Linked DNA regions of Homo sapiens. Each later gene encodes a partner of the first gene's protein in a complex. Each region holds a gene or a part of one and is shown in the gene's direction. Other genes may lie near its edges.

The links.
Region 2: SMC2 (region 1) and NCAPH share a complex: the UniProt entries of both Homo sapiens proteins name them as parts of the condensin complex.

What each region holds. Positions count from the first base shown.
Region 1 is NC_000009.12:104,139,158-104,141,927, forward strand, and holds the end of SMC2 (structural maintenance of chromosomes protein 2), read left to right. Parts: coding exon 1-158; 3' UTR 159-2,262; downstream 2,263-2,770. UniProt on the Homo sapiens protein: Central component of the condensin complex, a complex required for conversion of interphase chromatin into mitotic-like condense chromosomes.
Region 2 is NC_000002.12:96,352,635-96,356,393, forward strand, and holds part of NCAPH (condensin complex subunit 2), read left to right. Parts: intron 1-671; coding exon 672-763; intron 764-1,548; coding exon 1,549-1,754; intron 1,755-3,759. UniProt on the Homo sapiens protein: Regulatory subunit of the condensin complex, a complex required for conversion of interphase chromatin into mitotic-like condense chromosomes.

The sequences.
Region 1 (2,770 bases):
AAGAAGGTATGTTCAACAATGCAAACGTTCTTTTCAAAACCAAGTTTGTGGATGGTGTTTCTACAGTAGCCAGATTTACTCAATGTCAAAATGGAAAGATTTCAAAGGAAGCAAAATCCAAGGCAAAACCACCCAAAGGAGCACATGTGGAAGTTTAAACTACAAAGTTATTTCTTCATCTTGACCTGTTTTTTTAAATGTAAACTTTTAAGGACTTGAGATAACTAATTTGTTTATATACAAAAATTAATGTTACTGTGTTACTTAACCCATGTTTTCTCTTTATATAATCACTTATCGCTTACAAATGAGCATATATTCCTCATCTCTTAACTAGTCTAATTATGGTCCAATTATTGTGGTTGTGATTTTATGCATATCATCAAATGTTTTTTTCTTATGCGGGTCTTTTATATATTAGGGATCCTGAGATACCCGATTCTATATGTAAAAGCTAATATACAAAAAAGCAGATTAAATTACATGATAAATGTAGCTGATCATCAGTGTTTAATTGATTTAATTCCTAAGGCAATATTAATGTGTTTTCTAAAGTCATTCAGGTAAGGAAGAATTATAAATCAGGTAACTGGACCAACAAAGGGAACACATATAAAGCTATTATGCATGCATGGAGCCGTTTGAGGCTAGTTTTTTAAGGCCACAACTCCAGACCCCTGATTTAGACTGAGATAGGAAACAGATCTTGAAAGAATCCTTATTTTAATGATACATGAATATCATGTTCCTATACGCTTAATAATTGGTCTCTACGTTTTAATGATACATGAATATCATGTTCCTATACGCTTAATAATTGGTCTCTACGACTTTAATGTTTTTGTTTTTTTAAGCTGTGTAAGTATTTTTAAATCAAAGCTTAGGAGGTGTGTTGCGTGGTACTATCTGCTGCAAATTTATCTGAAGTTTGTTAATATTTTCCAAGATTTTTGTCAGCCTTTTCATAATCCAGTCATTAACAACCTATTGGTAAACAAGAATGTAGGTGCCAGTAGACTAAACCAAATTTATTTTTCCCTGAGTCTGATATATATATGTATAAATATAAATAACTCAATCCATCTGTTCCACCAAAATAACTCAAAAGTTGGATGATTATTTGTCTTCCGCTTTCCAGTTCAAAGGGATGAAATTCCTTTAGAACTTGAAAGATGACACTAGCGAACACCATGAGAATACTGTCTACAGTTTTTGGTACGTCATCACTAGAACAGTGACCCCAAACTGAATCATGAAAGGTCTGACATGATGTAATCTGATCTTCCATGTGTTATTTTGGCCCCACATCTCTTCTTGATTTTTTAGTCTTATTTCCTTAGTGTTATTATCATACTTCCCCTGATATATGGCCGTACTTCCTGGCCCTGGGCTTGACATTTCCCACCCTTCATTCTCCATACATATGAGATGTCAGAAAACATGCAGTAATTGATATTATGGGACACATTGGAAAGGATTGAATCTGGAATTAGTTCTGTCCACTGTGGAGGGGAGAGGAAATAATGCTGTAAATGTTGAGTTACAGAAAGTCCAATGTCAAATATAGTTTTTTTGTTTCCTTTCAAATGTATTACAGACTGTGCCAAAACAGTTACCAATTCACACTGTCAATATTAAAGTATACCATAGTATACAAATTAGTCAGTACTTGCTGTTAATTTTAATATTTCTGATTTAACAGTTAGTTATTAAGTGGTACTTCATTGCTGTTTTAGCCAACGTTTTAAAAATAATTTGGGAGTTTGACTATTTTGGCTTACGTACTCATTTCCTTTTCTCTGCTAAAAATGTTTTGCTTGTGTGCGTTCCTGATTTTTGTCTTGTATAATCTTGATCTTTGAAAACCCTCAAACATGTATTAAATTGTTGTAACTTTTTTTCATTAGAGGGAAGACATTAAGGGGATTGGGGACATTTGTTTCACACATCTGCAGTAATATGAGTTAACTAATATTTAACAAGCTCTTTCTTTACATTAGCTGCTGTTCTCATTTGTATGTATTGTCATATTTAATCCTCAGAGTAACCTAGTGAGGTAAATACTGTTGTTGTCAGCATGGTGTAATCGAGGAATTGAGTGAGTTGAGCAGAAAAGTTAGGAAACTTGCTCAGGGTGATAATACAGTTAGGAGTGTCAGGGCCCATGGACAAATCTTGTCAGTCTCCAGAACCTAAGATATACTACGTCACTGACAGCTTGAACATTTGTATTTATTGTACAGAATAAATTTAAGAAAAATACCTGTATGAGCAGTATGTACAACGTGAATGTTACCTTAAAGAAGAACCTCAACCATGTGAAGAGAGGATTCATTGTGGTGGTGGCGGTTTTGGCATTTCAAGTAAGCTCACAGCAAATGCAAAGCAAAGACATGAAATTTTCTCTTCCAATAGGGTGGCATAATCTAAAGGCCAACATTCCCACAGATGATAAATATAGATTCTGAGCAAAATACTAGAAACAACTACCTGAGAGTTCAGGAAACTGAAGAAAAACTAGAAAGATTTTGGATGGGAGATAAAATACGGAGGAAGAGACAGGCACAAGCTAAGGTTAATGTTTTTAACCTAAGTACCAGCTATAGTCATGATGCAGCTGTAGGACAGCTAAGGCTGCAGTGGAAAGCCTGGGGTCTTTCTGGTCTGGAGAACTAAAAGATGGGATCTGGGCTAACCACAGCTTCCAGAAAGTGAAGGAGACGTCTCAGAAGGGATAAACGAGGACCTGGAGAAAGAGGTCCCCAGACTT
Region 2 (3,759 bases), on another chromosome or scaffold:
TGGGGTCCCAGAAGAGCTGCCCCCTCCTGCACATTTCCAATGCAGTGTTCGTACTCTCGCTGATCTTCATCTCAAGTGCGGTCATTTTTATGTGTTGAATGAAATTAATACTTCCCCTCCAGGCTGGGCAGTTGTTAGCTCCCATTCTTGTCATTTCTATTCTTGCCTCAATTTTGTTTAGTATAGTTTTTGTGCTAACGATCTATTTTCCAAGTTTGTGCTCTCATTTGGGGCTCTAATCCCCTGAAGTAAGTCTTCTCTAGTTTGGGACTAAAAATAAGTTAAAGTACCATTACATGATTGCCTATGTACTTGGTGTATTTTTAAGACGAAGCGTTTGATTTCCCAGCTATAGCATAGGTCACAGAATTCATTTCAGAATCGAATGTCTGTGCTTTAGGTTTCTCCTCTAGTATTTTACTAATTTGTGCGATGACAGTGCATAGCCTCACTCCAGCGTGGGTGTGGCCGACGCATCTGCTCGCTCCCAGAAGAGGCAGGGACACAGACTGGCAGCTAGCCAGCCACTGATGATACTTGAGCCTTTGCTGGAGGACAGTGAGGTAACTGTGCCTCTCATCTCTCGTCCCACTCAGTATCATTCTGAAGGGAGTAAGGAATGCACTTGACCCCCTTCTAATCTCTCTTTGTGATCTTGCTATCCTCTCCAGCGCCCTTGCAGCAGTGTGCAGAAGATCGCCAGATCTGCCCTTCCCTGGCCGGGTTCCAGTTTACACAGTGGGACAGTGAAACACATAATGAGGTGTGGTCAAGTTTTAGTGGCTCATGGTTTCAGTTAGTTGGCTCAAGAGTGGTCCTGCCCAATGGGAACCAAAACTGTGGCATCATCTTTATTTAGCCAGGAGTACAGAAAATATTTCCTTTGGCACTTCTGTAGGGACAAAAACCCTGAGGGAGGAGGGTAGGGTTGTGAACCCCAGCAGGACTATTCTAGAGGTAAGTGAGTTCCAGGATCAGCTTTATGTCCTCTCTTCTGCTATCCTAGGGTAAGGCGGCCCTGGCATTAATCAGTGAACATTTATAATTAGATTTACTCTTGAATGTGGTTATCCCAGTGGCCTCGAATCTCTTAGGCTGCCGTCAAGCTTGAGGAATTTCCTGCTCTTTGGGGTTGAATCCCTTGGCACAGAGTTTCCTGAGAAATTGTCATGTGTAGAGCTTTCCTCTGTGTATTTTTAGCATGGCCCCCTTTAGCCTACTTACTACAATTTCCAAAATAAATGATCTCCATGGAAAACTGTTTTCTGCAAACATGTAGTTAATGGGTACAGAATCCTGTTTCATGTTTTACAAAATGTGCCTGACAACAATGCAGCTTCCTCCTGTGCTGCACAATATAAACTTCCCCCTCACTGTACTATCGTGAGAGTCTTGGCCCAGGCAGGCAGGGGATGGGAAAGGGAAGGGTGGCTCAGGGGAAGGAGGAGGCTGGAAACTGAAATTTAAGGGTGAGAAGGCTGTCCCTCCAGTGGTGATTTGGGGTGGTTATAGGAATGAGAATTACAGAACCCTCTTTTGTCCCTCCAGTCTGTGTCGGCCCTGGTAGACAAGTTTAAGAAGAATGACCAGGTATTTGACATCAATGCTGAAGTTGACGAGAGTGACTGTGGAGACTTCCCCGATGGGTCCCTGGGGGATGACTTTGATGCCAACGATGAACCTGACCACACCGCAGTTGGGGATCATGAAGAGTTCAGGAGCTGGAAGGAGCCCTGCCAGGTTCAGAGCTGCCAGTAAGGCTCTCAGAGTCCGAAAGTGTTTCTATAGGAGTTTTCCATTGGTTCTTTTTTCTTTTTCTTTTTTTTCTAATTAAAAAATTTTTCTTTCTTTTTTTTTCCCCCCCCAAAAATAGAGACGGGCATCTCACTGCATTGCCCAGGCTGGTCTTGAACTCTTGGGGCTCAAGCAATCCTCCTGCTTTGGCCTCCCAAGGTGCCAGGATTTCAGGTGTGAGCCACCATGCCTGGGCACTATCAGTTCTTAACAGATTTCCTGCTGGGGTGATTGAATTTGATGTCTGATTGGCTGGGCTGGTGTGCTGTGTCATACACATCAGCTGAGCTTTTCAGCTGAGCCTTTCTGACTCAGAGGAATCACACCTGGCTTTGAATGTCGGCTTAGCCACTTTGGTTATAAAACTGACATTGCAAGAGTTTGTAAGGATTAGAACAATGTAAAGCGTTTGGAACAAAGCACCTGGGATCTAGTAATTACGTCAATGTGGCTGTTGTTACCACGTGCATTTTGGTAGCAGAGAGCATGCTCCCTTTGTACACATTGCTTATAGTGTGGCTGTTGGTGACTCTAAGCCACCAATTTACCACCTGAAAGGTAAGCAAGTGGGGGTTAGGCAGTGTTGGGTTACCAGATGGGCAGACTGGGGACGAGCAAGGCAGGGAAAACAAAACCAACCAATAAATTGAGAATATTTGGAGGAGAAGAAGAAGAATTGGTTTAGTAATTAAATTTTTGATTACCCTAGTAAACATCATAAAAATAATCAGAACTTGGTTGGCCTTTATGTACTTAATAGGTTAGTATTGTTTTAATTCTAAATATGATTTGGAAGCAGGGTCTCACAACACTTTAATGTCATGGTCCTGTAAAGGTCTTCAATGGGCCTGGGGGTAGGAGATTTCATGAGATTAGAGTGAACAGTCCCTCTGTTAACTCCTATGTCTGTAACAGAGCTTTGCAGAACTGGGATTGGGGACAGCCAAGCTGGTTTTGAGTAAAACCTTAGAAGTTGCTTAGTATAATTTCCCGCTATGACAAAAATCTCTTCAAGACCCTGCTCGGATGTCTTTCCTAAGCTCATTTTGTCTGCCCTTGTGGGAAACGATTAGGCTGATAATGTCTTTTAAAGACATTATCAAGGCGCCACTGCCCATCCAGGCTCAGTAGCACCCTGCTCTCCGGAATTGTACTGTTCACATGGCTGCAATTTTGCCCCATTCTCATCGTGTCTTTTTTGTTTTTATGTTTTTTTGTTTTTTTTTTTTTTGAGACAGAGTCTCGGTCTGTCGCCCAGGCTGGAGTGCAGCAGCGCGATCTCTGCTCACTGCAAGCTCTGCCTCCCGGGTTCACACCATTCTCCTGCCTTAGCCTCCCGAGTAGCTGGGACTACAGGCGCCCGCCACCATGCCTGACTAATTTTTTTATTAGAGACGGGGTTTCACCATGTTAGCCAGGATGGTCTCGATCTCCTGACCTCATGATCCTCCCACCTCGGCCTCCCAAAGTGCTGGGATTACAGGCGTGAGCCACTGCGCCTGGCCATCCTGTCTTCTAAGAAGGGAGAAATGATAGGTTGATGGGATGAACTCTTAAAAACATCATTTTCAAATGTCAGAGAAAAGCTATCACTTTCCTTAAACAGTGAGGTGACATCTGAGGGACTGACAATAACAAAGGGCTTCCATGACTTTTATTTGGTTTCTGGAAGATGTTTTCTGCTGGTTATTTTGAACAAATGTCTCCACTTCTCTCCCCTATTCCAAACAGCACAAAATCTTAGACTCTATCCTACCTAGTACATTAGGCGTGGGAGGCTGCAGTTCTAGTCTCAGATTTTACCCATCCTTAAATCCCCTCCCCTTGCCACATCGCTGGCCTTTCCTGGGAATTCAGTGAGTGTTTGATCTGGAGTAGATCTGATCTTGCCGTTACTAGCCCTGAGATGTGGGGCAATGTTATCACCTTTTGCGGTCTTTGTTTTCTCATCCATAAAATGCAAGG